Linked DNA regions of Homo sapiens: region 1 is linked to region 2. The links come from fine-mapping of genetic effects on gene expression. A gene starts in region 2. The other region holds a variant in brackets. All regions are shown on one strand. Distances are from middle to middle. Region 1 overlaps TSPAN9 (tetraspanin 9). Region 2 holds the start of TSPAN9 (tetraspanin 9).

Evidence for each region. PIP is the estimated chance that this variant, and not a neighbour inherited with it, causes the effect. A credible set is the group of variants that fine-mapping cannot tell apart.
Region 1: its variant is the best candidate, but not a certain one, in a credible set for the expression of TSPAN9 in subcutaneous fat (GTEx, PIP 0.89).

What each region holds. Positions count from the first base shown.
Region 1 is chr12:3,283,225-3,288,588 of GRCh38, reverse strand. TSPAN9 (tetraspanin 9) reads right to left here. Exons shown (of 9, transcript NM_006675.5): 9 at 2,030-5,364. Among named protein-coding and RNA genes, the nearest start is that of LINC02827, 14 kb to the left of the region's middle. RefSeq lists enhancers at 3,362-3,862, 3,863-4,363. The variant G/CAAAG (reference allele first, on the strand shown) is at 3,167.
Region 2 is chr12:3,075,090-3,080,453 of GRCh38, reverse strand. TSPAN9 (tetraspanin 9) reads right to left here and starts at 3,075. Exons shown (of 9, transcript NM_006675.5): 1 at 3,001-3,075. RefSeq lists silencers at 2,970-3,469, 3,520-3,569.

The sequences.
Region 1 (5,364 bases), 210 kb before region 2:
CTGGGCTTAAAGCCTTTCCACAGCTCCCACTGTTCTCAGCCTGAACTTCAAGTTCCTTGGCCTGGTTCTCAAGGTTGTGATCTGGTGGTCACCACCATCTCCAGACCTTCACCTTCACCCTTTGTGCTCCAGCTCTGTGGACCACAAGCATCCACAGGACACATCTCCTGCCTCTCTTTGCCAGGTGAACACCTCCACCTTCAGCTCTTAGCTTTGACATCACCTGCTCTGGAGACCTCACTTCCCCAGGTTCAGCCAGTGACTGTCCCCCAGGGCTTCCCAGTGCCCTGTGAACATTGCTGCCACTACTTACTTGCAATCACAGGCACTCTTCTGGGGTCCCCACTAAATGGTCGGCTCTGAAAGTGCAGGGACTGGGTCTGTGTCGTCCACGACTGTGTTCTAGGTGCCTGGCACGAGTGAGTATTCAGTAAGTCTTTGGGCAAACAGACATTTGTCTGTGCAAGCGCCACTGTTGGCCCCATGGAAAGCTGGCGGGGCTCAGAAGCCACCCTTTCTCACTTGCCCTTTGCTGAGCACCAATGGGGAGGCAGTTCCATCACAACACACAAGAATGGGGGCGCAAAGGAGGGACCCCCCCCCCCGGGTCATCTCAGCCACTCCCTAGACAGAGGAGCCCAGACCCAGCCCAGAGGTGCTAGCCTCGTCACTAGAAGTCCCAAAGAAGATGCTCCTCTCCCGCACAGCCAGGGCAACCAGAGCCGAGGGTTAAGAGAACAGCCAGTGTGTTCCATTGCCTGGAAGCCCCAAAACACAGCACAGTGACCCAGTGGGCATCTCAACAGGCCTGGGGGCAGGAGCGAGAGTAAGAATGAGCAGAGACAGGGTGGCATCCACCCAAATTCCTATGAGCTGGTTTGTCCTCCGCAGACGATGAGGGGGTCACCTGCTCCTCAGCCACGATCAATCCTGACCCTACAGCCACAAAGTCTCTCTCGGTAAATATCCTGGGGAGGTTCCCAGGGACATCACTCCAGCTGGACCTTAGACAGAGGGTGGCTCAGACTCAAGGCACCGTCTCTGGAGGCTCTGGGACACAGCAGCTGCAGGAGGGGGCCCCAGAGGTTGATGTTTTGGGATAATTCTGTGTGGACCTGGCCACTCCCTTGAGAAGGCGGGAGATGGAGTTCCACAGGCAGAGGGGTTTCAAGATGCTCACCTCCAAACCTCCAACTGCTCTCAGACCCCCATGCACACTCACCCTCACGCCTGCCTCCACCCTGGGGACATGAACACAGTGAGGACCAGCAAGGGGAGTTCTGAGCTTCTCATCTGCAACTTGTCACCTTGACTGACAGCCAAGGAAACCCCACACACCAGGACCCCAACCAAGGCCGCGGGAGACTTCGACTGCAGGAAGGCGGCAACGTCAGTGGCCCAGCCAGCAGCTCTTCCTGCTCGCGGTTTTAATGGCCTTCCCTGCTGACCATCCTCATCCTGATTTTGTTCCTTCTTTGAGGCTGTCCCAGTCACCCTGAAAAGGCCAAGACACACTGTGAGGCCCCCTCAGTCCGAGACATCAAGGTCAAATGAACCCCGGGAACATCACAGGGATTGGGAAGAAGACTGTTTCTGAAACTGACAGCCCCCACCCCTACAGGAAGCCCCTTACCCTACTGGAAGCTGCTAGTGGCTTATTCCATACCCGCCCCACGATACACTTCGGGGCCTGGCCACAGGACTGGCCATGTGTGATGGGTGATTGGTACGGAGACAGGACTTCAGCCTCTCAGGCAGAAGGCCTCGGGCACTGGGACTGCCCCCTGATCCAGCCTGTTTCGAGGGGGGATGTTAGGATTCCTCAGGCACCCAGAGAGGACAGAGACCCTCCCCACGCCAGCAGATCTGTGACCTGGGCCCCAAAAGAGAGATGAGGTCCCCCTGGGGGTGTGTCTTGGATGAAGGGTAGGAGTGGTATCTGATCCCTCTGGGTCCCTCACACCAACCACGACCTAAGTCACAGTTTTGGCTGAGTGAACAAAACACACCACTGAGAGACAGCCTGCTGTGCTTTTGACACTTTATCCGTTTTTATTTAAAAACATGCTAAAAACATGGTGTTCCATAAAGCCAGGACCAGGATGAAGGAACGCACAGATACGGCAATGCAAGCAGAAAGTGCATCTGAAACCAACAAGCGTGCTCACCCTGCTCTCCCTCCCGTGCTGCCCGGGGGCAGGCAGGTGGGCAAGGAGGGGGCAGGAAGCCCCCCAGGCCTCACCTCCTGAGTCCCCAATCAGGGCAGGGAGGCCAGGCCCCACCCTGGACTATTGACTCACTGCAGTGGGGAGGAGGAAAGTGTGGGGCACGGGAACACAAGGGCTGGCCGGACTCTGAGAAGCTGAGGGACAAAGAATGGACCCCAAGCACCTCACGCCCAGCTCCCATCCTATGCCACGTCCCTGCTAGTTAGCACCTCCACCAGTGGGTGGGCAGGGGCTGGAGAGGAGGGGACAGCCACTTCCATCCACCCAGACTGCTCTTGGGCCACCAAAGCCTGGAAAGATGGCCATCTAGTTCCAAGTCAAACCAGGACACCTGCAAGAGGGTCCGGGGCAGGGCCACCTTCCAGAGAGCCTGAGACACAGGCCCATGCTGGAGGGAGAGGGGGGTGACACGGCTCAAGCTGGGGGAGGGGTGCAGGGGGAGACTTGCACCGTGACACCTGCTTCCACCACCCAAGAGCAGTTCTCAGCCTGTGCCCGCTCACCCCCACTGCAGGATGGCTGCAGAGAAAGGCTGAGTCTGCAGCGGATGCCCCCCTGCAGTCCTCTACAAACCCTGAGGGACTTTCTGAGACAAGTGTGTAAATTGCTCACATCAGACCTGATTGAACTGACTCTGGCAAAGGGAGCCGTGAGTGAGGGAATTCTCTCAGGGGAATTCTACCCCAGTGAGATCACAGTCAGGAGAAACTGAAGAGAGGCTGTGCCACCTTCACTGGCATCGCTGGGTGTGGCCCTCTGAGTGGAAGGGGCTCGAAGGAACACCCACTCTGTGCACACAGACTTCCGCCCAATGTAGACTAAGCCAAATAACAAAACGGCCAAGCGCAGAGTGAGTAAAGAAGGCAGCGTGGGGACCTGTAGATGAGGCTCTGCAAACAGACGGATGAGGTGGGGGCTGGTGGGAGCACTGTGGCAAA[G/CAAAG]GCTCTGGGGCCAGAGGCCACCCCTGAAGTACTCCAGAAACAGAAAAGATTTTCAGGGAGGTTGCACATCTCCCAATGCACTAGGCTTTTGCTGTTGATATTAACAAAAATTAAAAATTGCATTGATAGGCATAAACCAACCCACCCACCCCACCCACAGCAAAAAACGCACGAGGCCCCGGGTCCCACCGTGCAACTGCAGCACTTGTCTGCTGAGTCTCTCCGCCCGGATGTGTCTGCTCCGGAATCTGCACTTTGGGGGTTCCTGCGGAGGCGGCTGAAACTCCTTACCAGGAAGCCAGGCCAGGGGACAAGGGCAGGGCAGCTTTGCTCAAATGTGGGCCTCCCCCACATTCCATCAGCACCACTGCCCCTGTCTCAGGGAAGCGGTCTTCACCCTGCACAACTCACAAGACCACCCTACTCTCCACTCCCACCCCCACAAAACACGAATCCTGATAATGCCAACGGTTCTGTCCTCCTGTTCCCGATTTGTGTGTTACTTAAGGTGAACAGAGGAGTGACTGGTGCTGGGTGGCCGTGTCTCAGCTCTTGGATCAGACAGGCAGGTGGAGGCTGGAGAAGAGACCTGGCCCCAGTGGGAAACCAGGGTGACAAGACAAACTGTATAGGAAAGGCAGCCGCCCACCAAGGCCCCACCTGATCAAGTGCAGCAGACGCTGGCTAGCGGGTGAGGTCCCCGTGCTCAGTCCCACGGATTCGCGACCTTTTTGAACGGCAAAACAGTAAGCCAGACCAGCTGCAGTTTGGAGGGGGCGCCCTGCTGCAGCTGAATCCCACTCCTGGCCTCACTCCCCAGCCCGTTTCTCTCCCATGCCCAGCTCTGCACGTGCGTGACTCCGGCTGCTTTCTTCCCGTGGCTCCGGTAACAAGAGCCAGTCTGACCTCTCTTGGGTTTTCTGTATTTCTTCTCCTTGGGATCACAGATGATATAATCGCCACCCAACCCACTGCTGATGTCCGTGGCCCCAGGGAAGGAGGCGAAGATCTTGGGACCCAGGTGGACGTGATTCCCTCCTTCCCAGCAGGGCAACCCACAGCTGAGCAAGGCTGGCGGGGAGGACCGTGGGTCCTCACCCCTGTGGGTCCCCTGCCACTGTCCCAGCACAGCAAAACCTAAGGACTGCTTCCCCTTCCAGAAGCAAGGGGGAAAGTGAGCAGCATCCGAACTAGAGAGGTATTTGTCTGACAGTTTCTAGCAGGAATGTCTGTGAAATAACTGGGGTGTGCAGAACCTGTTGTGGGAATACCCACATGGGGTGGAAGGGGAAGCCTCGCGTGCCAGCAGAGAGCGGGAGGAAGGGAGAAAGAAAAAACCAACAACTGCTCATCAGTGAAAAGTCTAAGGACCCCTCTAGCTCTGCCACAGCACCGTGGGGCCCCCCTGCCCTGGCATTTCCAGCTCGATTGGTTAGCAAACGCCACCTCCCGTGCAGGGGCACCTCCAGCCTGCTTCACGCTCCACCCGCCTCTCCCAGGCTCCTGTCCTCAGACACCAGGCCTGGCAAGGTCCCGTGTCCTGTCCACGCCCCCTCCTTCCCACACGTTCTGAGGGCGCAGGCGCGCCCCATCCGAGAGCCTCCTGGGTGTCGCACGGTGGTCTGTCCTGATTGAGACTGGACAGATGTCCTCTCTTCCCACCCATCCCTCACCCTCAGGGAAAAAAAGTCAAACCATTAAAGAAATCAACACAGTAAAAAGTTACAAATCAGAAATCTAACCCTAAACTTATCTGAGAGATAATATTCCTGAATAATCATAGAGTAAAATAAAATAAAAAAGTTACATTGTAAGGTATAAAAAGCCTGGGCGAGATGCTCCAGGGGCCTTGCCCAGAGGCCGGCAGACCCCCGCCCCGCCAGGTGCCCCATGGTGGCCATGGATGTCGCAGCCCCCGCTGGGGCGGTATCTCCACGGGGCGGGCACTCTGCTCCCCACCCCATGTGGGGACAAAGTGTCAGTGTGAGGAAGGGCAGGGGCAGAAGCCCATCAGTGCCGGGGGTTCCTCCGGAGCGCACCCCAGCCCACCCTGTCGTCTTTGGCAAATACGCATATGCAGATGCAGGAATCCAGGGGCCCCGAGCCCCAGGTCTCCGTGTGCCTCCTCCTCCCTGGCACTCCACCCACTGAGAAGTCCGAGGCTGAGGCAGGGTAGGTGGGGTAGGGCAGGCTGTGGG
Region 2 (5,364 bases):
CTGAGGCAGAGAATTGCTTGAACCCGGGAGGCGGAGGTTGCAGTGAGCTGTGATTATGCCACTGCACTCCAGCCTGGGCGACAGAGTGAGACTCCATCTCAAAAACAACAACAACAAAAAAAAGATTTTACATTCAGTGTTTTTTTAACCACAATTTTAGAATTTTTTATATAAAGCACACTTCCTAATTGATTGAGTGGCTGCCAATATCTTACACTGTTAATTATCTGATGCTGGAAGAGACTCTAGAATATTTCTAATCCAATATACCACCAAAACAGAGAGTTGGAAAGAGGAGGTAAATTGCCCAAGGTTGCACAAATAGGTGGTGCCAGGTGAAGACAAGGCTCAACATAGAGGAAAGGGGCTGGGCGTGGTGGCTCACGCCTGTAATCCCAACACTTTGGGAGGCCAAGGTAGGAGAATTGCTTGAGGCCAGGAGTTCAAGACCAGAGACCAGCCTGGGCAACATAGCACAACCCTGTCTCTACCAAAAAAAAAAAAAAAATTTTTTTAATTATCTGAGCATGGGGCCTGTACCTATAGTCCCAGCTACTCGGGAGGCTAAGGTGGGAGGATCACTTGAGCCCAGGAGTTGGAGGCTGCAGTGAGCTGCTTGTGTCCCTGTGCTCCAGCCCAGGCAACAAAGCAAGACCCTGTCTCTAAAAAAAAAAAAAAAAAATAGAAGAAGGGGCTAAGTACGGTGGTTCATGCCTGTAATCCCAGCACTTTGGGAGGCCAAGGCAGGCGGATCACCTGAGGTCAGGAGTTTGAGACCAGTCTGGCCAACATGGCGAAACTCCATCTCTACTAAAAATACAAAAATTAGCCAGGTGTGGTGGCGGGCACCTGTAATCCCAGTTACTTGGGAGGTTGAGGCAGGAGAATCACTTGAACCCAGTAGGCAGAGGTTGCAGTGAGCCGAGATAGTGCCATCGCACTCCAGCCTGGGCAACAAAAGCAAAAGTCTGTCTCAGAAAAAAATAAATAAATAAAATAGAAGAAGGGCAGAGAGGCAGATGGCAGAATAGATGGCACAAGGCAGGAAGGTCAGAAGCCAGGGTTCAAGTTTTGCTTCTTTCACTTAATGAGTGTTGTGACCTTAGATAAGATACTTATTCTCTCTGAGTATCATTTTCTTAACCTATAAGAAGGCAATTAAAAGTAACAAACTTCAGCCAATGCGGTGGCTCACGCCTATAATCCCAGCACTGTGGGAGGCCAAGGCAGGTGGATCACTTGAGGTCAGGAGTTCAAGACCAGCCTGGTCAACATGGCAAAACCTCATCTCTACTAAAAATACAAAAATTAGAAGGCGTGGCGGCACGCGCCTGTAATCCCAGCTACTCGGGAGGCTGAGGCAGGAGAATGGCTTGAACCTGGGACGCGGGGGTTGCAGTGAGCTGAGATCCTGCCACTGCACTCCAGCCTGGGCAACAGAGTGAGACTCTGTCTCAAAAAAAAAAAAAAAAGTAACAAATTTCACAAGATTACGTATGAATTAAATAAAATTATATACAGCTAATGTAACGTGCATAGAAAAAACTTGGCCAACTATAAATTACTTTATCAACACTAGTTATTGTTATTAATATTAAATATCTGTTCATAGGTTTAAAAAGCTCTGCCAGAATATTAAAATCTGATTAAACCAGACCAAAAAAAAAAAAATCCTACTCTCACCTGTTCAGGGACTTGCACACAGGGCGTCTTCAGTGAGTGAGAGTAGAACTGAATTACACTTCAAGTTTTATCTACCCCAATCCTCTCCCTCCAACCCACAGCCCAGCTGCATCAGCCATGCCAGGACCAAGCCGAGGGTAGGAAGCCGGTGTAATTGTCTGCCTCTCTGGCTGCATTCCTTAGCTAAATATAAATGATTTGTCCAGGCTATTGTTTGAAATTATCCATAATCCCTCTCCTCCCCTCCCCATTACTTATGATGGCAAGCTGGCTGCGTATCTCTATAGCAAAGCATATATTCAACATTCTCTGTGGCTATTTTCAGTAAAGAGAAGGGAGCTGGCAGGTATATATAGGGATCCTCGCATGAGTCTTCAGTTTTCTCCACTAGTCCAGGAAAGCTTCCTGGAGGAGGAAATACCTGAGTCACCCCAGGGAAAAGGACAGCTGCAGGTCAGAAGGGCACGCGCACATAATGAGAGACTGGGTCTCTGAACTAAGAGTTACCAGGTAAGGCAGGTAAGCCCCTGCCTTCTTACCCCCCGTTTTGGTGATGCGAGAAAAAGGTAGCTCAGGGGATCCCATACTAGCCCAAGCTTCCCCAGACAAAACAGGCATTTGGGGGAAGATGAAGCAGTGACTCGTATATTTTTCAAAGAGGGAGGAGATCCAAGACTCCAGTTCCAAGATGTACAAGTACAAATATTGCTCTTACAACAACAAGCCGGTTTCTTGTTTGGATCTTTTTTTAAAAACCACAAGAAAGTTTTTTGAAGTCCCAAACTTGAATGCACAGATGGGCTAGATCTCCAACTTCGGGATGTGCCAGAGTCCTGTCACTCGGAGTGCTGATCTTCCAGCAGTGGCCCAGGGAGCGGTCGCGGGTGCCGGGGGGCTGCAGGCCATATCCCAGCCCTGCCCGAAGGCCCCCTGGCCCTCTCTGGGGTCCTTGTATGGACTGTCCCAAGCGGTGCACGGGGTCACACAGTCGGAAACCCTTGCCGGCCCCGGGTTACTCCCTTTCTGAAACGGTCTTCCTCGGAGCCATCCCCTGGAGGACCCCACTTCGCTCGGTGCCCGGGCCCCGCACCCACCCTCCCCTTCCCGGCCCGCTTCCCGCACGGCGCCTACTCTGTTCCTCGTCCTCTCGTCCCACCGCCGCCCTGCCCACACTGCCTCCCGTGGGCGCCCCCGGCCGCTCCCCCTTCTCGGGTCTCGGCCTGGGGGTGCCCAGCCCGCCCGGCGCCGGCTCAAGGCCGCGCGACTCCGCACGCTCTCGAGACCCGCCTCGCCGCCCGCCGCCCGGGCCGCACTCACCGCGCCCGCAGGACCTGGGGGTCTCCGCTCTGCTCGCGCTCCGGCACCGCCGCCGCCGCCGCCGCCAGCGGAAACAGGGGGCGGGGCCTGCCCGGGAATGGCGAGCCTGCGGGGCGGGGCGGCCCGGGGGCGGAGCGGGGAGGGGCGGGGCGGAGCGGGGAGGGGCGGGGCGGAGAAGGATCGCAGGGCTGAGCGGGGCGCCAGCGCCAGTGCCCGGCACTGCCCCGGGCTGGGTCCCCTGCGTTAGAGGAAGGGGAGCCCGGGGACGGGGCACGGGGCCCGCGAGGCACGGGTGCTCTCTCGGGGTTCCGGAAGCCTCCCTCCCCGCCCCGCCGCCCGCATGCCCGGACCGGCCGCTCCTCCGAGGTGCTATGATCCCGCCTTCCCCCTGCGGCGAACGGGCCTCTTCCCGGGGTAGGGGCGGGGAGGTCCGGGCCTGGCAGTGCGCTCTCCTGGGCTCTGCGCCCACACGGCACCCAAGGGCCTTCCTGGCCCAGGCCTCGGCTCTCTCCCTCGCGCCAGGCTGCCTGGCCTCGCCACCCCACCCCCACACCTACGAACCCCTTCCCTGGTGTTTCGGGCGGACTGTGCGAGATGCTGACAGCGCGGGTGTGTGTTGGAGCCTGCCTGAGACACCTCCCGCAGAAAGGGCCATGCCTCCCCAGGAGCTGGCGGCCTCCAAGGGCGACTACAGGGCACCGTGTGCCTGAGGGGTGCGCTAAGGCAGGAGAAACTCCAGCTAGGCATGTCTGGCCCGGGCGCTTTTTCAGGCCTGGATTTTATGTGTTTTTTGCTTTTTGTTTTGTTTTGTTTTTTCTTGAGACAAGGACTCACTCTGTTGCCCAGGCAGGAGTGCAGTGGTGCGATCACGGCTCACTGCAGCCTCGACTTCCCGGGCTCAAGTGATCCCGCCTCAGCCTCCAGAGTAGTTGGGACTGTAGGCGCGCACCACCACGTCCGGCGAAGTTTTTGATTTTTTTTGTACAGACGGTGGTCTCCCTGGGCCCAAGCTGGTCTCAAACTCCCGGGCTCAAGCCATCCTCCTGCCTCTGCCTCCCAAAGTGCTGGGATTATAGGCCCGGATTCTTAAAGCTAGAAGGCCTAAACTTGTTTCCAAAGAGCACTAAAACGCCATCTCTTCTCATCATTACTGTCATCAAAAATGTCTTCTAGGCCAGGTGTGGTGGCTCACGCGTGTAATCCCAGGACTTTGGGGGGCCCAGGTGGAAGGATTGCTTGAGCTCAGGAACTCAGGAATTCAAGAACAGCCTGGGCAACATAGGGAAACCCCATCTCAAAAAAAAAATGTTTTAATTAACCGGGTGTGGTGGCACACCCCTGTAGTCCCAGCTGCTCCGGAGGCTGAGGCTCAGGCGTTGGAGGCTGCAGTAAACTAGGATCATGCCACTGTACTCCAGCCTGGGCAGTAGAGGGAGACCCTGTCTTTAAAAGTGAAATTTTTTTAAATTTTAAAGAAACTGTATGCTGTGCTTCCCACGTGCCCTACCATTGCACTAAGCTTGACTGGGGACAAGTTTTTAAAACCTGGCTATAATCACTAGGGTCACTTTTGCTTTCTGCTAATTAGACTGGAAGTTTCCACTCATCTTCTGGGCCCCTTTCCGTCACACACATGCAACCTTGTTTTTGTCTATTAGACTAAACCCATAACCCATTTCCTTCTGATCTCCCTTTCCCCACAAGGAAAATATTCTCCTTCTACATTTTGCTTCATCCAAAGCCCTGTTCAATGCCCCTATAACAAAGTCTTCCCAAGGAACCCCCACCAGCCCCAATCTCTCCAGTCACTGCGGCAGAGTTGGGTACATGTACCCAGAAAAGGAAACTGGGTCTCAGACAGGGAAAGAGATATACTAGGATTGTCTGCCAGCAAGCCAACTCACTGGCAGACCATTGGACGCAGCCTGGTGAGGGAGTAGCCGCAGGGCTTGGGAGCCAGACACACCTGTCTGAATCCTGGCTCTGCTTTTATCGGCTGGGACCTCTTCAGGCCTGTTTTCTCACCTGTGGAATGGGGCATAAGAATACCAATTATGGGGATGGGCATGGTGGCTCACACCTGTAATCCCAGTACTTAGGGAGGCCGAGGCGGGTGGATTACCTGAGATCAGGAGTTTGAGACCAGCCTGGCCAACATGGTGAAACCCCGTCTCCACTAAAAATACAAAAATTAGCCGGGTGTGGTGGCACATGCCTGTAATCCCAGCTACTCGGAGGGCTGAGGCAGGAGAATTGCTTGAGCCTGGGAGACGGAGGTTGCAGTGAGCCAAGATCGTGCCACTGCACTCCAGCCTGGTCGACAGAGCGAGACTGTCTCAAAAAAAAAAAAAAAAAAAAACCAAT